Linked DNA regions of Homo sapiens. The protein of the gene in region 3 purifies or fractionates together with the protein of the main gene of each other region. This does not show direct contact. Each region holds a gene or a part of one and is shown on either strand. Other genes may lie near its edges.

The links.
Region 1: the proteins of RMND5B (region 3) and UBE2H purify together in Homo sapiens (affinity purification with mass spectrometry; 2 studies listed by BioGRID). This does not show direct contact.
Region 2: the proteins of RMND5B (region 3) and ARMC8 purify together in Homo sapiens (affinity purification with mass spectrometry; 4 studies listed by BioGRID and IntAct, with this or other methods). This does not show direct contact.

Annotation. Positions count from the first base shown.
Region 1 is NC_000007.14:129,841,300-129,845,050, forward strand, and holds part of UBE2H (ubiquitin-conjugating enzyme E2 H), read right to left. Parts: intron 1-3,751. UniProt on the Homo sapiens protein: Accepts ubiquitin from the E1 complex and catalyzes its covalent attachment to other proteins. E2 ubiquitin conjugating enzyme that transfers ubiquitin to MAEA, a core component of the CTLH E3 ubiquitin-protein ligase complex.
Region 2 is NC_000003.12:138,190,285-138,194,035, reverse strand, and holds part of ARMC8 (armadillo repeat-containing protein 8), read right to left. Parts: intron 1-3,751. UniProt on the Homo sapiens protein: Component of the CTLH E3 ubiquitin-protein ligase complex that selectively accepts ubiquitin from UBE2H and mediates ubiquitination and subsequent proteasomal degradation of the transcription factor HBP1.
Region 3 is NC_000005.10:178,133,881-178,137,631, reverse strand, and holds part of RMND5B (E3 ubiquitin-protein transferase RMND5B), read right to left. Parts: intron 2,463-3,751; exon of another isoform or gene 2,420-2,462; coding exon of another isoform or gene 2,320-2,419; intron 1-2,319. UniProt on the Homo sapiens protein: Core component of the CTLH E3 ubiquitin-protein ligase complex that selectively accepts ubiquitin from UBE2H and mediates ubiquitination and subsequent proteasomal degradation of the transcription factor HBP1.

The DNA.
Region 1 (3,751 bases), on a different chromosome or scaffold from region 3:
AGGTCTGCCCAACTTTGCTCTAGAAAATCTTACCTATAAGAGGTGGCTCTTATCACTGTAAGGTTAAGAAGCTGAGCAGTTAGAGACTAATCTAGAGCTGTGTTACTCAACCGAACTTTCTGCAGTGATAAAAATGTTTTATATGTGCTCACCTAAACCAATAGCCACTAGCCATAAGTGGCTACTGAGCACTCAAAATATGGCCAGTGTGAATAAGGAAATTAATTTTCAGTTTATTTAATTCTAATTAAATTTAAATAACCACACATGGCTAGTAGATCCTGTATTGGACAGTGCAGGTCTAGAGAATGATGGGCTAGAGGGTCCCATGACAGCTACCACGTCCTGTTCTCACACACCAGGTATTGACACAGAGCAGCTCTGCCTTACAACAAAAGCCACAGACTTGGGGTGATTTCATCAGAGTCTATTTCACCTTCATAAGGCTGACTTCAGAACGGTCCTAAAGAGCCACTTTATAGTAAGGTTCTCATGTACCACGAAAGAAATCCTGACACTCCTAATCAAAAAAGCAAAACAAAAATCACCTTCCTATATAACCCCCAAACTATCTGCAGTAAGATTTTCACCAATGTTTTATCTACAATTTTTTTAAAAAGGGAAACAATTATTATGGTACAAAACCATTGAAAACTATTTGTTTTCAATGAAAAAAATGCTTATACTTGAATGCTGGGTAGAGAAAGGCCATAAAATGGTATGTTTTCTAGAATTACAACTATGTACAGTGTGTATGCATAAGACAAACATTTTAAAAAGCTACCTCAAGGCAATAGATGTGTAACTTCTACTTTTCACATTTCAAATGACATTTCTTTTGCCTTTAAAAATCAACATTTTTGGCTCACACCTGTAATCCCAGCACTTTGGTAGGCCAAGGTGGGTGGATCACATAAGGCCAGGAGTTCGAGACCAGCCTGGCCAACATGGCAAAACCCTGTCCCTACTAAAAAATACAAAAAATTAGCTGGGTGTGATGGCGCGTGCCTGTAGTCCCAGCTACTTGGGAGGCTGAGGCAGAATTGCTTGAACCTGGGGAGGTGGAGGTTGCAGTGAGCCAAGATTGCACCACAGTACTCCAGCCTGGGCAAGTGAGTGGAACCCTGTCTCAAATAAATAAATAAAATAAAAATAACATTTTCCTGTAAATATGTCCTTTCTATTTTGGCATATGTTTGAAATATCCAATAAAACATGAAAAGTCTGAAAATGTTTTTATTTTCTTATCTTTATCCTTGGGTGGGTGAGTTATTAAGGCAGTGGTAGAAAATGCCAAAAGGTAAGCAAATTCAGTTTTACAGGCCAGACGCAGTGGCTTACAACTGTAATCCCAACACTTTGGGAGGCTGAGATGGGCAGATCACCTGAGGTCAGGAGTTTGAGACCAGCTTGGCCAACACGGTGAAATCCCGTTTCTACTAAAAATACAAAAATTAGCTGGGTGTGGTGGCAGGTGCCTGTAATCCCAGCTACTTGGGAGGCTGAGGCAGGAGAATTGCTTGAACCCAGGAGGTGGAGTTTGCAGTGAGCCCAGACTGCGCCATTGCACCGCAGCCTGTGCAACAAGAGCAAAACTCTATCTCAAAAAAACAAAAATAAAAACAAAAAACAGTAGTTTTACAATTGAATGTGATCCCATAGCAGGGAAAAGTTAAACAATAGTTACATTAACAGTAATTTTTTTTTTTTTTTTTTTTTGAGACAGAGTCTTGCTGTCAACCAGGCTGGGGTGCAGTAGTGTGATCTCCACTCACTGCAAGCTCCGCCTCCTGGGTTCACGCCATTCTCCTGCCTCAGTCTCCCCAGCAGCTAGGACTACAGGCACACGCCGCCACATCCAGCTAATTTTTTTGTATTTTTAGCAGAGAAGGGGTTTCACCGTGTTAGCCAGGATGGTCTCGATCTCCTGACCTCGTGATCTGCCCGCCTCGGCCTCCCAAAGTGCTGGAATTACAGGAGTGAGCCACTGCGCCCGGCCCATTAACAGTAATATTAACAGTAATGGCAGGTTAATGCTTACATAGTGCTTACTACAAGCAAGGAACTCTTCCATGGTCTGCATATACACTCTTAATTTCACTACAGTCAATGAGGTAGGCACCATTTTACAGATGGAGAAATTGAGGCACACAGAGCTTAAGTATGGATCAGGAACTCAAACCTGAGCTCATCCACTATGCTGCCTCTGTTAATGGATAAAACACACACTGCCGCTGCCGCAAATTTCACGAAGGCACAAGCTCCCCATGTCTCTGGGTCAAAATCGCATACCATCGCTGGCAGGGAAGCTAAATCCATGGATCAGAGATGATCACCCTCCTCCCCAAAGAATCCCTCACAAGTGCAAAGAAGCATGCTAAGCAAAGGACGTTCAGATGTTTCTGTGGCTATTCACAGAGACGGTGTGCTTGTTTTCATGCAGCTCCACCGCAGGAGGTAACCCGCAGACACCTGCACACAGCGAACGGAAGGCTCCTCCTGCCATATTATTATTACAGGTGCTGCTCAAAAGGATTAGCAGCTGGATGCTATTACATAACAACGAAAACCTTTAAAAACAAAGCATAGGTTTTATGTTCTGAAGTAATGTTCAGAAGTGCTTCAGGGCTAGAGAAATATCACAGACAACGTGTTATAAAACTAGGAGTTTAGCGTGTCCCAGAAAGAGATTTTATACCCTTTCCTACTACTTTTAAGTTTCCTCAAGCTACCAATAAAAGGCTTTGCCTATGAATTTGTTCCAAACAAATAAAAGAACCCTTAATTATTGGTTCTTCCTTCCTGTATCTACCGTCTTCCTGCATTAACACATTTTTGATCCATTTTACAGAAGTGCTGAGTCACACCTGTAAAACAGAAGAGCAGAAAAGGAAACACATGAGGCCCAGTTTTGGGTGAAGATGACAACTTCGGGAGGCCAGGATGTGATGGCTCTGCCATCTTAAAGCAATAAGGCCTTCCTGCAAGTGGCTAACACAGTGATTACTCCTAAGGGTGCTTCTGAAAGGAGCATCTCTCAAATGTGCAGATGTGCAGAAAGTCTTCTTTCAAGATAAATACACTGGCAGAGAAGACTAAAACTATAAATCAAGAATAAAATAAAGATACTCATCTGTAGAAAAATAAAGAACACTTTTTCCCTAGATTTTTGTTAATGATAAAACGATAAAAATGTGTCGATAATAATAACGATAAAAATGTGTCAGTTCAAAGATCTTTATCTAAAAACATTAACCTTCAATTTTTTTAAAGGAAGAGAGCCAGATACAGTTGACCTAAACCTGTAGAGTACAGTCAGCCGACCCCATTTCCGCCTGTCTTAACTTTTAAAGGAAGTCCCAAGATTCCTGAGTATATGGTTTATGATGAGCAAACAGCTCTTACTTTTGCCTTAGACTCAATTAGAACCAAAATGTGGTTCATTAGCACTGACTCTTCAGTCTGATCTTACATTAATGTTAAAATTATAACACTCATATCTCAGTTTAGGCATATAATTTATATTCATATTTACTATTTAAAAACAGGCTGGGCACAGTGGCTCATGCCTGTAATCCTAGCACTTTGGGAGGCCGAGGCAGGTGGACTGCCTGAGGTCAGGAGTTTCACACCAGCCTGGCCAACGTGGCAAAACCCTGTCTCTACTAAAAATACAAAAAATTAGCCAGGCGTGGTGGTGGGCACCTGTAATCCCAGCTACTTGGGAGGCTGAGGCAGGAGAATTGCTTGA
Region 2 (3,751 bases), on a different chromosome or scaffold from region 3:
ACTGGGAAAGGACTGTAAAGAAGACAATTAAAAATCAACAAGTGCCCAGCTGTTTATAATAGCCTACAAAGTGATTCAAAGACAATTTGTTACCTTACCTCTCTACCATTACAAAGTGACCAAAATTAAATGCAACCATCCTTTTAACAGGGTCTTTCACAGAGCGTAAGTTTTCATTTTGGTAAAGTCCAATTTATCAATTTTTTAATAAGTAATGCATTTGGTGTTATGTCTAAAAGTTATTCACCAAACCTAAGGTTCTGCAGATTTTCTCCTGTTTTATTCTAAAAGTTTTATTTTATGATAAAATCTATGATCCATTTTGAGTTACTTTTTGTATAAGGTATGAGATCAAGGTTCATCTTAAATTGTGGTTAAGAGGATGAAAAGGCAAGTTACAGATTAGGAGAAAATATTTGCAAATACCTATCTTACAAAGGGTTCAGATTTAAAACATATAAAGAGCTTTTGGCTGGGCACGGTGGCTCACGCCTATGATCTCAACACTTGGGGAGGCCAAGGTGGGCAGATCACCTGAGGCCAGGAGATTGAGACCAGCCTGGCCAACATGGCGAAACCCCATCTTTACTAAAAATACACACAAAAAATTAGCTGGGCGCGGTGGCACACGCCTGTAATCTGAGCTACTTGGGAGGCAGAGGCCCGAGAATCTCTTGAGCCTGGGAGGCAGAGGTTGCAGTGAGCTGAGATCACACCACTGCACTCCAGCCCGGATGACAGAGCAAAACTCTCTCAAAAAATAAGATAAGCCGGCGCGGTGGCTCACACCTGTAATCCCAGCACTTTGGGAGGCCAAGATGGGCAGACTGCCTGAGGTCAGGAGTTTGAGACCAGTCTGACTAACATGGTGAAACCCCATCTCTACTAAAAATACAAAAATTAGCCAGGCATGGTGGTGGGCATCTGTAATCCCAGCTACCTGGGAGGCTGAGAGAGGAGAATCGCTTGAACCTGGGAGGCAGAGGCTGCAGTAAGTTGAGACCAGGCCATTGCACTCCAGCCTTGCCAACAAGAGCGAAACACATATCAAAAATAAAATAAAATAAAAATAAAACCTATAAAGAGCTTTTAAAACACCACAGTAAAGAAGCAAACACTCCAATTAGAAAGTGGGCAAAAGGACATGAAGAAATATTTCACCAAAGAGAAAACATGGATGGCAAATAAGCGAAGATTTTCAGGCCAGGTGCAGTGGCTCACACCTGTAATCCCAACACTTTGAAAGGCTGAGCTGGGAGTATGGCTTACACTTAGGAGTTCCAGACCAGCCTGAGAAACATGGTGAAACCCCGTCTACATGGCCAGGCATGGTGGCACACACCTGTAGTCCCAGCTACTTGGAAGGCTGAGGCAGAAGGATTGCTTGAGCCCAGGAGACAGAGGTTGCAGTGAACTGAGATCACGCCATAGCACTCCAGCCTAGGTGACAGTGCAAGACTGTCTCAAAAGGATAAATAAGCCTGTAATCCCAGCACTCTGGGAGGCCGAGAAGGGTGAATCATGAGGTCAGGAGATTGAGACTATCCTGGCTAACACAGTGAAACTCCGTCTCTACTAAAAATATAAAAAATTAGCCAGGTGTGGTGGCGGGCACCTGTAGTCCCAGCTACTGAGGAGGCTGAAGCAGGAGAATGGTGTGAACCCAGGAGGCGGAGCTTGCAGTGAGCTGAGATCACACCACTGCACTCCTGCCTGGGCAACAGAGGGAGACTCCGTCTCAAAAAAAAAAAAAAAAAAAAGGATAAATAAATAATAAAAATATTCTCAACATTATTAATCATTAGGGAAATGCAAATTAAGACCATGATGAGATATTACTACACATCTACTAAAACAGCTAAAATAAAAATAATAACAGTATCAAATGGCAGTGAGGATACAGAGAAACAATGTCTCATATATTACTGGTAGAAATGTAAAATAGTACAGCCACTCTGGAAAAGTTTGTCAGTTTATTTTAAAATTAAACATGCATTTACCATCTGATCCTGCAATTGCACTCCTGGGCATTTAGCTCAGAGATATGAAAAGTTATGTCCTTACAAACCTGTACATGATTGTTCATACTACGTTATAATAGCCAAAAACTAGAAGCAACCAAAACGCCCAACAGGTAAATGGTTAAACGAGCTGTGGTACATCCACACCATGAAATACTACTTAACAATAAAAAGGAACTACTGCTACATACAACAATATGGATAGATCTCAAAAGCATTATACTGAGTGACAAAAAACAACCTCAAAAAGTCACATACTGTATGATTCCATTCATATGACATTATAGAAAATGACAACATTATAGAGATGGAGAACAGATTATGGTTGCCAGGGGTTAGGGATACCTGTTGCGGGGAGAGGCTGGGTAGGTGGGACTATAAAGAGGGAATATGAGGGAGATCTTTGCGGTGACGGAATAGTTCTGTATCTTGACAGTGGTGGTAATGGTAACACAAATAAACATGTGATAAAATGATACAGAAACAGATACATACTTATACCAAGATCAATTTCCTTGTTTTGATACTATAATGTAACTATATAAGATGTAACCTATGAGGGAAACTGGGTGAAGTGTACACAGGGACCTGTCTGTACTATCTTTGCAACTTCCTGTGAATCTATAATTATTTCAAAATAAATGTTTTTAAAAATGCAATCAACATAATTCAAAAGTATAGAAAACATTGCAGAAATTTATGAATTTGTTGAAAAGGGTGATGTTGTAATGTTAAATGCAAACCAAAGAGGGATGGGGTGGTCATAGTGCAGTCTAGAAACAGGGCTGGAGAGTTTGTCCAACCCTCCAAAATAGATAGTTCAATCAAACATTTACTGAGTACCTAGGATTTGCAAGACAAAGTGTTACTTCTGAATTAATTTACTCTCTAATACGACAAGATAGAGTATTATTAAAGACCTCTGCAAAAGCAGTTCCCTTTGCCTTGTATGCTCTTCTTCTGTCACTTTTTCTAGTTAGTTCTTACTTATCCTTGAACTTTCAGCTCAGCATCACTTCTTCAGGGAAACCTTCCCTAGTTCTTCCTATTGCCCTCCATATTAGATCAGTTTCCTCTATGACATGTTTTGAACAGCACCCTATATACTTCATTCATAATACTAATCACCATTCACAAACTGTGTGATTATTTGATATCTATTTTTCCCACTAGGCTAACATTTCCAAAAGGACAGAGGTCTGTGTAGCTTACGGCTGTATTCCCAAACTCAACACCATGCTTGCCTAGCAAATGGCAGAAGCTCAAAGTAGATGTACAGAATATATATATACAAAGTTAAAATTCATATGTACAAATGAGTAAGAAGAATAAGATTTACTGGAGTTTGGAAGAATTCTGTATCACTCTAACCTGAGAAAGCCGGTTTATACAGGATAGCAGGTTCATGTAGAAGATAAAGAATCTCGGCCGGGTGCAGTGGCTCACACCTGTAATCCCAGCACTTTGGGAGGCCAAGGTGGGTGGATCACTTGAGGTCAGGAGTTTGAGACCAGCCTGGCCAACATGGTGAGACTCTGTCTCTACTAAAAATACAAAAAAATTAGCCAGGCATGGTAGTGGATGCCTGTAATCCCAGCTACTCAGGAGACTGAGGCAGGAGAATCGCTTGAACCCCGGAGGCGGTGGTTGCAGTGAGTCGAGATTGCGCCACTGCACTCCAGTCTGGGCAACAAGAGCAAAACTCCATCTCAAAAAAAAAAAAAAAAAAA
Region 3 (3,751 bases):
GGCAACCTTGATCCCCCCAGGCCCAAGGGATTCTCCCACTTTAGCCTCCTGACTAGCTGGGACCACAGGAGTGTGCTTCTACACCTGTCTAATTTAAAATTTTTTTTCGTAGAGACGGGTCTCTCTGTGTTGCCCTGGCTGGTCTCAAACTCCTGGGCTCAAACGATCTTTCCACCTTGGCCTCTCAAAGTGCTGGGATTATAGGCATAAGCCACCATGCCCGGCCCGTGTATTTTCATAGAGTTATTATGGCCACATTCTTACAGTTAGAGGAACTGCTTTTCTACGTACTATAGTAACATAAACCATAAAGGCCGTCCTTGAGTGGCTGATATTTGGAAACACAGCTTGGGGAATAACTGCCAACCATGCTGGCCTGACGGACTTGCCCAGCACTCCTGCCTCACCCTCACCCGCCGCACACCCGAGGACAGGCACAGAACCCTTGCTGTCTCATAGCTGCGTGCCCTGGTACATGCTGCTTCCTCACCTGGCCTGCTCTCCATCACCCTTACCTCCTCGACTACTTGAGAGGCTGGCCCATCACTTCTGAGTTAGCTCAGACGTCAGCGTCTTCAGCAGCTGTCTCTAGCCTGTGCCCACCTAGCTCCCTCTACTCTCACTTTGCACCCTTCTATTTCAGTTTTGGTCACTGGGCCTGCCTCCCCCACCAGACCAGAACCTCTCTTGCTGCAACACAACCTTCCCTCCTCATTATACCATTGAAAGAAAGTTGACTTTTCTTGTCCTATCTCCTCTCCCTACCACTGGGGCTTCCTTCTGTGTCCTTTCTACCCTGGGCCACTGCTCCTTTCCATTTCAGAGCAGCCTTTGACACTGAACACGTGGGCAAACCTCAGAATGTCAGTGACAGAGCTGATCTAGCCCAATGCCCATTCTCAAGAAGGGTACAGAGGAACATCAAAGAGAAAGAGAATCCTATGTCCAAGGTGACCACCAAGATCCTCCCAGTTTCACAGGCTCTCTTCACTCATTCCCTCATTCCCACCAGCATGAGTCCCGGCCTCAGCACCTTGACCCATCTGTAGCCACTGTCTCCCAACCTGACAGGCAACAAGTGACAGTGAAAAGGCACCCAGGGCCTTGGGGGCTGTGTTTCTTCCCTTTTTCCTTACAGCTAATGCTATTACGCTGGAATCTATAGTCAGAGAGTCCAGAAGCTATGCCACCCACCCCCCACCATCCCCTCTGAACAAACACCCTGCAACTGAATGTGACCCATTATGGCAAAATATAACAGGGTCTCCTATCTGAAATGACGTAATTATTATTATTGCTATTATTAACAGCTGACATTCCAAATAGGAGCCTGTTATGTGCCAGGCACCGTTCTAATGACTTTGCATACATTAATTCATTTACCTAATGCTCACGAAAACACTATGAGGTAGGTACAATGATTAGACCCACTTTGCAGATGAGAAAATGAGACACAAAGATTAAATCAGTTGCCCAAGGTCAGGCGTCTGGGAAGTGGAGGAGCTGGGAACTGAACTGAAGCCAGACAGTCTGGCTCTGGCCTCAGAGTCCTTCTCTACGTACTTCACATCACAGGTACTCCCAGGACCAGCTTCACAGGCCACTGTTTCACCAGGAAAGGAAAGAGCAAATATCTGTGTTGGAATGAGTGTACAGCAACCATTAATGATGATGAGAAACAGAAAATTAACCACAGAGCTCGTGAGAATGATCAACTGGGGAAGATGGCAGGACACTAGAATGTTGGCCAAGAGTGTCTGGGAACTAGAATCACAATTTATCAAAAATAAACATGGCTCAAAAAAGCCAGGACCTCACGAAGGTCAAACAATCCGGCCCTGTCAGACACCAAGAGCTACCAGGCTTATCAAAGCCAAGCTCAAATCAGCATCTTGAAATTGTATTTACTACACTTGATCTCAGCGAAAAGGCTGAGAAGCGATAAAATTCTATTTACAAAGCTGAGGAAGGAGATGGGTACGGGATTGCATTGTAGCAAGGAGTGGGAAACAATCTAGGGACCTCATCACTAGAGGAATCAAGTAAGTAAAATGTGGGGGATGCATCTATGGAAACCTGTGGAGCATTTAGAAACTGCATCCCAAATATACCCAGAGCAACATCGACAAGCTCCACACATGGCACTGAGGTGGAAAAAAATGAGGTCTAGGCAGAATCCATTTATGTAAATTAAAAGTATATGCATATAGGCTGGGAGCAGTGGCTCACACCTGTAATCTCAGCATTTTGGGAGGTCAAGGCAGGCAGACTGCTGAGCTCAGGAGTTTGAGACTAGCTTGGGCAACACGGCAAATTTACCTGGGCATGGTGGCACACGCCTGTGGTCCCAGCTCCTCAGAAGGCTGAGGTGGGACGGAGGACTGCTTGAGCCCGGGAGGTCAAGGCTGCAGTCAGCCATGATTATGCCACTGCATTCCAGCCTGAGCAAGAGTGAGACCCTGTCTCAAAAAAACAAAAAACAAAAAGAAGATATACACCAAACACATCAGAATGGTTTCCTGTGGTGAGAAGAGAGGGGAAGAATAGGGACAAAAGGGAATATAAATACAAAGGAGAAAAAGGCCCTGCATGGACCAGTTAAATGTATCATGAACTGAGGAGTGTGATTAACTCAGTAATTTTTTTTTTTTTTTTGTAGACGGTCTCGCTCTGTTGCCCAGGCTGGAATACAGTGGTGCTATCTTGGCTCACTGGCAACCTCCACCTCCCGGGTCCAAGCAATTCTTATGCCTTGGTCTCCCAAGTAGCTGGGATTACAGGTGCACCACCACACCTGGCTTTTTTTTTTTTTCATTTTTGTATTTTTAGTAAAGACGGGGTTTCGCCATTTTGGCCAGGCTGGTCTCGAACTCCTAGCCTCAAGTGATCCACCTGCCTTGGCCTCCCAAAGCACTGGGATTACAGGTGTGAGCCAAATCACCTGGCCAAATTTTTAAAAGTAAAATAAATGAACTGAGAAAACAGAACTGTTCGTGGGTATTCTATCCAAAAAATGCAGGAGGTTAATTCAGTCTGTCTAGAGCAAGCCACTCTGCCTGAATCAGTCAGTCATCTTCACCAGGCGCAAGGAATTGTGTTTGTCTTTGACAAACTTCATGATTAATAGATTGAAATTTCATGTCCACTGGTCCTAAGCCTTCCTCCCCAAGGTCTCACATATACAGAAATTATCCACCAGGATGACCCTCCGAAACACATAGCAGATCCTGTTACCTTTTGCCCAACACTACCATGGTTGACATATAAACCCTTTGCAATAATGTATTTGCTTCCTTTGCACAAGTTGTTCCCATTTTTAGAGTGCCCTCTGCACTTCTTTGTATAGAGTACGTAAGCTGTAGTTAAATTATCACCTCCCCTTGAGCCCTCAGTGAAATCTCCCTGCCTCCTTTTCTGCTTCATAACCTGGCAAGAGTGGCCACACCACACCCATCGAGTCCTCAGCTACTGCAGCACAGTAACAGCCTGTCCACGTCAGCCTCCTCCATTGGTCTGTGAGCTGCTCGATGGCTGGAATGTAGTCTTGTCCTTTCTCCCCCTCAGTGCCCAGACTAGGGCCTGGTCCATGGTAGATGCTCAGTAAACATTTGTTGATTGGGGCAGGGCGCGGTGGCTCACGCCTGTAATCCCAACACTTTGGGAGGCCGAGGCGAGTGGATCATGAGGTCAGGAGATCAAGACCATCCTGGCTAACACGGTGAAACCCCATCTCTACTAAAAAAATACAAAA